Homo sapiens: one gene and its partner. The protein of the gene in region 1 purifies or fractionates together with the protein of each later gene. This does not show direct contact. Each region holds a gene or a part of one and is shown on either strand. Other genes may lie near its edges. The genes, in order: SIGLEC9 and NCAM1.

The links.
Region 2: the proteins of SIGLEC9 (region 1) and NCAM1 purify together in Homo sapiens (affinity purification with mass spectrometry; 3 studies listed by BioGRID and IntAct, with this or other methods). This does not show direct contact.

Annotation. Positions count from the first base shown.
Region 1 is NC_000019.10:51,127,671-51,130,872, reverse strand, and holds the end of SIGLEC9 (sialic acid-binding Ig-like lectin 9 isoform 2 precursor), read right to left. Parts: intron 2,925-3,202; coding exon 2,834-2,924; intron 2,460-2,833; coding exon 2,363-2,459; intron 2,074-2,362; coding exon of another isoform or gene 1,879-2,073; exon of another isoform or gene 1,832-1,878; intron 983-1,831; coding exon 794-982; 3' UTR 563-793; downstream 1-562. UniProt on the Homo sapiens protein: Putative adhesion molecule that mediates sialic-acid dependent binding to cells. Preferentially binds to alpha-2,3- or alpha-2,6-linked sialic acid. The sialic acid recognition site may be masked by cis interactions with sialic acids on the same cell surface.
Region 2 is NC_000011.10:112,957,299-112,964,456, forward strand, and holds the start of NCAM1 (neural cell adhesion molecule 1 isoform 2 precursor), read left to right. Parts: upstream 1-4,121; 5' UTR 4,122-4,314; coding exon 4,315-4,366; intron 4,367-5,911; exon of another isoform or gene 5,912-6,162; intron 6,163-7,158.

The DNA of each region.
Region 1 (3,202 bases):
GGGCATGTTGCAAATGATTTGGAAAAGACCAGAGGGACCAGTGGGTTAAGTGGTGAAGATGGAGGAGTGGACTGAAGTGGGAGAGTGATGTCACGAAGAGGATGTGATGGGAGGTTCAGGATCCAGGAGCCATGGATGGGCTGTGAGCAGTGCGGAGAGAGCTCAGTGTGTCCTAAAGATTCCCACTGGACTGTGCACAATACGTAGACTGCAGAGAGTAAGGCGGCCTAGCAGTCACAGGGTGGGCAGATGAGGCTGAAGAGGTGGGCAGGATCCAGATGCTACCTAGACCTGATTTGCAGGCTGAGGTTATTTCCTGGAAAGTTGCAGAATCGCTATTTTGCAGGCAAGTGACACAGACATATAAGTACTAGTTGCCACCAGAATCAGGAGAGGTTCCCAGCAGGACCTTTGTGTTCAAAGCACAGCGATCCATCAGTGCTCGGCATACACCTGTGCCAGGAGCTCTAACGGGATGTGACTCCTGGAATGGTGACCACAACCTTGCAAGTAGGGCTTCTCATTCCTGTTTTACAGAGCAGGAAACCAAGGTACAGAGAGGTAGGAATTTGTCTGTCTTTTAGTTAAAAAAATAAAAGGGAGGGCACAGTGTGGATTCAGGTTTGAGATACTTTGACTCTAAAGCCTGTGTGCTTTTCACTCTGCACATAATTCATAGTGTTATCATAGCTCATCACGTTGAGGGCTGTTAATTCTACAAGAATCAGCCTCTGACTTCTCCCTTGCCTGGAGGGGCTGTGATCCCTCAATCAGGGTGAGTCTCTGCAGTTTCTCATCTGTGGATCTTGATCTCCGAGTACTCGGTGTCAGTGGCCTCCTGTCCCCGCGAGTCCCAAGGCTTCACCATCTGGAAGCTGAGGGATGCATACTGGAGCTCTCCTTCCCCCACTGAGGAGCGGGCAGAAGCTGGGGGAGGCTGGTCTGGGGGACTGTCTTCTGCCCAAGGTTCAGTCAGGGGCCCCTGAGACATGGGAGAGAGAAGTGAGTCAGAGCAGACAGTGAGGATGGGGCGCGGTGGCTCACATCTGTAATCCCAGCTCTTCAGGAGGCTGAGGTAGGCGGATCACCTGAGGTCAGGAGTTTGAGACCAGCCTGGCCAACATGGTGAAACCCTGTCTCTACTAAAAATACAAAATTAGCCAGGTGTGGTGGTGTGCACCTTTAATCCCAGCTACTCAGGAGGCTGAGGCAGGAGAATCGCTTGAACCTAGGAGGCAGAGGTTGCAGTAAGCCAAGATTGTGCCACTGCACTACATCCTGGGTGACAGAGCGAGACTCCATCTCAAAAAACAAAAACAAACAAACGAAAAAATGCACTTGAGGCAACAGCCTCACTCACTTCACCCTTGTTCTTGCCCTAGTGGAGAGGTAGGTGCTTAAAAGGTCAGAATGTGGCCGGTCACAGTGGCTCACGCCTGTAATCCCAGCACTTCGGGAAGCCAAGGTGGGCAGATCACAAGGTCAGGAGACTGAGACCATCCTGGCTAACACAGTGAAACCCCGTCTCTACTAAAAATACAAAAAAATTAGCTGGGCGTGGTGGCAGGCGCCTGTAGTCCCAGCTACTCCGGAGGCTGAGGCAGGAGAATGGCTTGAACCCGGAAGGTGGAAGTTGCAGTGAGCAGAGATCGCACCACTGCACTCCAGCCTGGGCGACAGAGCAAGACTCTGTCTCAAAAACAACAACAACAAAAAAAAAAAAAAACAAAAAAAGTCAGAATGTGCACTGCTGCAGGCTATAGAGTTTGGGATTTTTACTCTAGATCAGGGGTTGTCAAACTACAGTATCTGAGTCATATCCAGCCCACTCTTTATGTTTGTGAATAGTTTTATTGGCACACAGCCATATTCATTTGTTTACACAGGGTATATGGCTTCTTTCTTGCTACAACAGCAGATTTGAGGAGCTGCAATGAGACTGTGTGGCCCATGAAGCCGAAAATAGTTTCTATCTGTCCCTGACAGATAGTATTTGCTGGCTTCTGCTCTAAACGGTATTGAGGGGTGGGGGAACAGCTGTTCAAATGCAGAGGAACTGGACGATGATGTCTTCTGGACAGTCCCCCCAGGCAGGAAAGGAGAGGAGACAGGCAGACAGGTGAGGGAACAAAAGACAGAGATCCTCAGGCCTCAGCAATGAAGGGTCAGGATAGGGAGCAGAGACAATAAAAGCTGTTCTTAGGGGAGGAAACCAACCAAACATTGTGATTTGGGGCTACAGAGAAGAAAGGAAGAACAGAGAGGAGGTAACTTTGGCTACGCCCAGCTGATTAGTCCTGGGGGTCATCCTGTGGGAGGTGTCCAGGCTACATGCTGGCTGTGGAGAGTCCACATCACTCACCTGAGAGGCTGAACCCCTGACAGCGTTTGCATCCTCTATGCCCGTATCTCCCACGCCCGCTGCTGGCCTTGCCGATTTCTTCCTGCAGGACCTCACTCTGAGTGAAGAGACCAGAGAGCCTTTCAGTGTGGTCAGATTGGGGTGCGGTGGGCAGACCAGGTACCCCCATGTGTTTCCTATTAAGGGACTGCAGGGGTGACTGAGGTGGGAAAGCAGTGGTCCAGTCTTAGAGACCCCAAGGTTGAGAACAGAGGCTCTCTTCTCCTGGACAGTGGGTACCAAGGTTTGCCACAGACTCAAAGCTCCTCAAACACAGGCCCACATGGAATTCTCACCATGCACCTGTGACCTCCTTCTTGCCCCAAGCTCTTGACCCATCCAGGTCCCTCCAGCTCTGGCTTCAGGGATCCAGCTTCCAGCCTGTCCTCCCCCAGGGCTCTCCCTCCCTCCCTCTCTAGGGTCCATGCTTACACAACGAAGATGACGCAGAAGGACAGGAAGACCAGGGCTGTGGCTCCAGCTCCCCCGACCACCCCCTGAGTCACTCCTGATGTGGCTTTGCCTGTTGACAGATGGGAGTTATTTTTGTGATATATCATAGAGAATTGGGTCTCTTCTCCTCCCACTTCCTGTAGGGTCCTAGACTTCTATTTCCACTTCCCCTTTCCAGACACAAAGAACAGGAATGAGAGAGAGCAGGACATGGAGAGACTCTTCCTGAGGCCAGTGAGGCGTGCAAGTGCCAGCCATTCCTTTTGGGGTTTTTTTTCACAATTTTAATATTTTATCCATTAATGAATTTGTTTTGCATTCAATTTTTACTTTTTTTAAAAGATTATT
Region 2 (7,158 bases), on another chromosome or scaffold:
CTTAGGGTATCTGTGAGTCCTAAGATCAAACCTGGGGTCTCCATTGTCAATAACAATAGGAAAGAAGCTCTAAATTAGGGCACTATTCCAAGTTCATTTTTCAAGTTGTGTAAGTCAAGCTAGTGCATAAGGTCTTGGTGGTGCTGAGCAAGAGTTAACACCAATTTAACTTACTTTATAACCTGATAATAAAGTCCTCACATTAAAAGAGAAGAAAAGAAAACTGTCTTTTAAGCCTCCTTCTCCCACAAGCTTGCCTCCCTGCCATTATCCCACTACTCCTTCAACATCACACTGCTGGAGAGAGTAGTCCACACCCCTGGCTTCTCTCTCCTCCCCTCCCTTTCATTTCTGGGACCATGATGTCTCCTTTTCCCTCCATTCCATGAATACTGTTCCCCCAGGGGCCACTAAGGACTTTCCAATGGTCAAATTCAGGAAATTCTTTTAAATCTTCCTCTTTTTTGACCACCTCAAAGCTTTCTTCTTTAGGTTTTGTGACATTGTCATGTTTCAATTTTCTTTCTAGCTGTCTGTTTTTCAGTATTTCATTGATAAGTCCTTCTGCCTGTACCTTAAACATTGATGTTCTCTGGGCCCTCTCTGTCTGTCTTCCACACATTTCCACTTGGATGTCTCTGAAACATCTCAGACTTAGCATGTGCAGAGCTGACATCATTGCTTCTTTGCTTATCACCTGGTCTGAATCTGCCCCTCTTCTTCTGCTCCCTGTCAATGTTACCAGCAACTATTCAATTGCCCACACTGGACCCTTAGCGGTTGTCACTTTCTCAAGATCTGTATCACATACACCCGTATAGCTCCACTAAACAAAATGGTAATCCCTCTCCGCCCCAGACTCTCTGTCCCCTTATCTCTCCTTATTGCTTTCCTTAGCACTTATCACCATCTGTACACTACTAAATGTTTAAGGATTTATTCTCTGTCTTCCCCCATAAGAAGGAAATCCCATGAGGGCAAAGGCTCTACTTTGTCCACGGCTACATCCCCAGTGTCCAGAGCAGTGCCAGGCACTTAGTTGAGAATCCATAAATATTTGTTGAATGAATGAAAGGAACTTGGATTTCTTCCTCTGCCTCATACTTCCATCTTCACAACATACCCAGGTCCACCTGTTCTTATCTTATCTTGGAATTGCAAATCTGGGCTCCTTTTTGCCTCCTTTCCCACTGTCGCTTTCTTAATTAGTCCCTGTCACCCTATCCAGAGCTATCATGGCCTCCTAGCTTGTCTCCTTGCCATGGCTGTCTTCTTGGACCATTCTCTGCTTCCTCTCTAAAGAACTTTCTCTCTAAAGCACAGTCTGGAGTCTCCTTCCTCTGCCTCAATCCCATGGATGTTCACTTTGTAGATGCTCATTAATGTGTGCCTGACAGCCTGGGCCTCTCTCTGGGGAGAGAGGTCCAGTGAGGGCCACAGTTTTGTCCATTTTAAAATGAGGATCAGGAAGGGATTGAAACGCAACAGAGCTCACAGATGTAGGCACCGACTAGCGGAGATATACAGAATTGGAGACAAGTGACATATCCTGTTAAAAGAATTTGGGAGTGATACTGGGAGTGTGGACTGGAATGACTGGGGCAGCATTCTAGAATGAATCATTACAACAGAGATCAACAACCACACGGGGTAGGGAGGGGCTGGAGAGAGAGAGGGAAAAAAAAGAAATTCAGTCATACTCAAGTGAGATTGGATTTCCACACTTGCCTACATTGAAAAGCTAAAAATAGGGACATTTGGGGAGAAAAATAGTGAGGAGTCTTTTAATTCTACTGACAGGACTATAAGGAGGGAGGTTTGCAGGGAAGAATGTGTCTCTCACTCTTAGGGGCAAAATTGGAAAAATTTTTATTTTGGGGGCCCCAACCTTCACTCTCCCCACTCTACCCCCTGCCTGTTCTCTCTATCTTTCCTCACCATCAAAACCTCTTTTTTAAGGAAAGAGTCTGATAACATTCATTTACATAAATCTGTAATATTTAATGTGGTGATTTTAGATGTTAGAAGCAGAAGTCTGAAATCAAAGACACTTAAATACAGCAACCATTAAAAAAAGACGTATATAATTCACTGCATCTAGCACAGGGCTAAACCCAGTGGTTGCTCCGCAAATATTTGTTGAAAGATGTTCAAAAAAGCCTTATTTATATTATCAAACTCCACAAACAATATAAATATGCAAAAATGGGGAAACCATTGCAAAATCATCCATATGAAGAAATATTACATAGCTATAAAAATATCTAGAAAAGCTTTTTAATGATCCAGAGGAATAAATGCTTATACTGATGTTAGGCAAAATCAGCAGGATTCAAATTGCTACTATAATATGTCAATTATAAAAATCATATGCACATACAGAAGACAAAATCTATGAGTATCTCTGGAATCTGTGGGATTTGGGGTTATTTTTAGTTCTTTCTACTTTTCTGTACTTTTGAATTGTTTATACTTGGAATGAGAGAAATAGCCCAAAGTAAACGTTGTGGAAGATTTACTTGGGGGAAGAAATACTTTTCAGGGGTCCAAGCTAATTACACTGTACTGGTGTGGCCCACTTGGTCTATTATAGAGGAGGAAAGTGGGGAAGAGATGGGGCCTGTCCAATAAGGATGGATGTCCTGACAGTAGAGGATGGACTTTTAAAAACTGCTACAGCGGCTGGGTGCGGTAGCTCACGGCTGTAATCCTAGCACTTTGGGAGGCTGAGGTGGGCAGATCACGAGGTCAGGAGTTCGAGACCGGCCTGACCAACATGGTGAAACACCGTCTCTACTAAAAATACAAAAATTAGCTGGGCGTGGTGGCGCGCGCCTGTAATCCCAGCTACTCAGGAGGCTGAGGCAGCAGAATCGCTTGAACCGGGAGCAGAGGTTGCAGTGAGCAGAGATGGCGCCACTGCACTGCAGCCTGGGCGACAGAGCGAGGCTCCATCTCAAAAAAACAAAACAGAAACAAAACAAAACAAAACAAAACAAAAAACCTGCTACAGGAGTGGGGAGGCCGACCTTTGAAGAAAAACGGAGTACCCGGTAACATTAGTGCTTTAATGCCTTTGAACTTATGCAGACTTCCTCTGTTAGAGGGTTTCAGTGTTCTAGGCTAATGGGTTAACCTGACATCTAGAACACCTTTCTCACATTAGTTCCTTACATACCCAAGCCTTCAGGTGCTGAGACATGATTCTTTTCACCCCGCTTTCTCCACCCCCTACTTTTGAAAACACGGGTGGAATTTTAATTAAAGCCTATTGTGTTGGTACCTCAGTAATATTATACATTAATATCTTTAAGAATTAAGGTCACGTCCCCATGTAAGAAAATATTATTTAATGACGCTTCTATATCATAATACCTATATAAAAGCCTGGCTATTTTAATAAAGAGACCACAGATTTCAGAATTTATAAACAGGAAAACATTTTCTTCGGGTTATTTCTGGAAATCTCTTCCAAACATCGGAGTTTTCTTCTAACTTAAGTCTCTTCCCACCTCCTTCCCAGGGGATCTGCTGAAGGGTGTTGTATGTCTCTCTGTGGGAGAGCAAACTTCACAGTTAGGATAAAACAAACAAACAAACAATATCCAAACAACACCCAGCAACGGCAACCCCCATCCCTCTCCAAAGTTCTAATTTCCCGCACTTAAAGTCCTGGGCTATCCTTGTGTTGCAAGGATCTTAGAATCGAAATGGAGGGATTTGACAACTTTACCTAACCAAATCTAAAATTTTGCTTTTATTATTTACTAGTTATCAAAATATGCAAACTGCTGATTAAGGAAGGCTGGGTAGCAGGAGCGCCTGCGAAGGCGTAGGGTAGAAGTGTGAAAAGAAATCCCAGCTCTCCCAGGGAGACTGCGTGTGAAAGAGCCCGGCTCCCCCAAAAGCTCCAGGCCGCGTTTTGCAGGCTTCCGCATCTGCCTCCCCTGTCTCTCTTACCTCCTTGATGTTCGGCACTATTTGTGGCCGGCGTGGTGGAAGGACACAGTGAGGTTCTCACCCCCGCCCCCCGCTCCTCGCTCCCATCCCAGTTCCATCAAAACGAACCCGGGCCAGCGCAAGGATCTCCGAGTTGCGAGTGTGCTGAGGCTGGGACTGTCACTCATTCTCCGATCAGCGCGTGAACGCAGCTCGGCTGCCGCTGGCAGGAAACAATTCTGCAAAAATAATCATACTCAGCCTGGCAATTGTCTGCCCCTAGGTCTGTCGCTCAGCCGCCGTCCACACTCGCTGCAGGGGGGGGGGCACAGAATTTACCGCGGCAAGAACATCCCTCCCAGCCAGCAGATTACAATGCTGCAAACTAAGGATCTCATCTGGACTTTGTTTTTCCTGGGAACTGCAGGTACATTTTTTTTTTTTTTAATTCTCAATCTGGTTTGCTAATTACCCCTTCCTCCTACTCCTAGGAGGAACGCTATTATTTTGGGTGGTTTTACGTGGACTGCTAAGGCTGGTCATTTTCGTTTAGCTGTGAAAGGAGCGCGTCGCCCTTGCTGCCCAGCCGAACCCCGCTCCCTCCAGGGCTGCGCTGCACGGGGCTGCCTCCCCGAGCCGCCAGCGCCCGGCGCCCCTCCGGCGCGTCCGCCCTTCCCACTTTGTGCGCCCGCGGCGGTGGGAGCAGAGCCGGCCGGCTCCTGGGGACTCAGCGGCCGCGCTGGTGATGGGCAGCGCTCCTTCCCCAAAGGCGGGCGGCGGGGCGGGGGAGGTCGCGGCTCGGGTGGTGCCGCCGCACGGGCTCGGATTCCGAGGGGGAAGTGGCTTGTCAGCCCCGGCTCCGGGAAGAGTGAACAATAAGGCTAGGGCAGCCGCCCCAGATCGTTATATTCCTGGGTCTAATAAAGTCAGGATCGCTGCTTTGCTTCCCCCGCCCCAGAAGAATAACGGTTTGCAAAATGGGGCAAAATGGGCAGAATCGCACGGCCGTTGTTGTTGGTGTGACCGTTGTTGCACCCCAGTCGACATGACGTTAGTTTTTCATTTGCCAAATTGCTGGTTAGTTGCAAAGCCTACCCTCGGCCGCGAGCACTGAAGGATGGGAGGGTCGAGCGCCGCGTTTTGACAGGAGGAAGTGCGGAGGGGCGGAGGGCGAGGAGGGCGTGATTGGGGCTGCCTGGTGTGTGCGCGCGCGTGTGCGCGCGTGTGTCTTTACACGCGCCGCGTGCCCAGTGTTGCACGGGGCGGGAGAAGAATGGCAGGTAGCCGCCCGAAACACCTCGCCCTGTCTCCTTTCTTTGGGCGAGGTTCCCGATCCTGGCAAAGTGTGAACAATAGGGAGCTGGGAGGAAGACAGTAGTGATGCTGCCGCGGGTGGCGGGGGTTGCGCCGCCGCCCAGAGAACCTCGGCAGTGTGCAGGGAGGTGCATTTCATTTTGGCTATTTCCATCCCGGCCTCCCTGGAAAATTCTTCTGTGCGTGCCCACCCTCCCCTCCAGCTGTCATCCCCCCACCTCCACCCAAGGATTTGCGCTTTGGCTCTGATGGACGGGAGGGAAGGAAGAAAAGCAGGGGCCGCAGAGAGCTGGGTGGGTTGGGCGGACATTCTGGGCGGGGGGCGTGTGCTGGGAAGCGATCGAGGAAAGCCGGGCGGAGGGGCTGTGTGTCGCGGTCGCAGCTCCAGGTACCGTTGTACCTGCCCTGGACGGCCGACCCCCGGTTGGGGAGCGCACGGGGCGGGCCAGGGAGCACCCAGTGCGCCCCCTCCGCGGGCGGCACAAGAGCAGCGCTCGGCCGCCGCCTCCAGCCAACTCGGGTCCCTCCCACGGCGACCAATCAGTGCGAAGCTGGCTGGGCGGGAAGCCGCGAGAGGCTTTTATTGCGGCGCGGGTGGCGGCCAGGAGCTGCCAGGACAGTCTCCCGGTGCTTCAGCCTAACGGTCTCGCTCACTCACCGCCAAGAGAAACCCCGCCCTGCGGCCGGTCCCCCGCCTGCCCGGCAGTTTCCGAGGAAATAAAATGGAGACTAGGTGGTCACCGGGAGTGCTCCTGGTCCGGCCGCCCGTGCTCGCCCACTCTCGCCTCTTTCACGCCGACTTGGAGCATCCCACCGCCCCCGCCAGCGCTCACTCTCGCGCCGCGGAATCCGGGCCTGAGCGCGTCGCCGGGGAGGGCATCCTGGCAGGCACACCTACGCGCGTGCGCTGACCGGCCGACCGCGGGCCGGGGGCTCTACTGACGGCGGGGCGGGGCCGTGGCAGGGCCCGGAGAGGAGGGGTGGGGACCAAGCCTAGTCCGCCTGGCCCTGGGTCTCCGCTGCCACCTGGGCGGGGGCCACCCCGGTTATGCCCCTTTCCGCGGTGCCCGTGGGTGCCGCGACGCGACCTGTCCACATGGGGCGGGGGAAGGGGGGTGTTTTTGAGACATCCTCGCCCCCGGGTGGGAGCGTGACAATGGAGCCCGGATATTTGGTGGGCCTTTTGGGGGATCGCCTGGCGGTCCTTTCCATCATCGTGATGGGTACAGTCATCAGTATTTGGATCCCGTGGAAGTTGCAGGCCCAGGAATTCCCACTGGGATGTTCCTGGATGCCCAGGCAGGGGAGGCATTCTAACCAGTGTTCCCTGGAATGAAAGCGACCTCTTTCCTGGCCCGGTACCTTGAGGATGGGAAGAAGGCAGAACGTGAAACACATACAAGGTTGCTTAACAAAAGAAAGAAGTTGAATGGTTTTCCAAAGAGAAATAATTTCCCATTAAAATGTCTTTTGTACCATAGTTTTTTTTTAAAAAAATCAAAGAATTCAAGTCAAAGGGTTAGAATGAAAATGAAAACATAACAACAAGTATATATACATATGTATATATATCTGAGGTTTTTTTTTTGTTTTTTTTTTTTTTGTTTTTTTTTTGGACTCAAATGTAGCATGTCCAGGGCAGTGGTAACTGAGTTTGTGTGCTCGGCTGGGTGCATATGAAAATTTACATATAAGGCAAGCTAACCTTAATACGTCAAGTGAGTCCGATGGGCTGCCCCTCTCCTCTTTCTGTGTCCTCTGCTCTTTAGAAATACAATGAAAGGTTGTGCAATTGCATAGTAAATTTGAGTTTATTCTAGTATAAATTTTGGATGTTTTGAAGAATTGTTCGCTTGAACGATCTGGAATGGTTAAGTCACATGTTTACTTGATAATTTTGCAGTC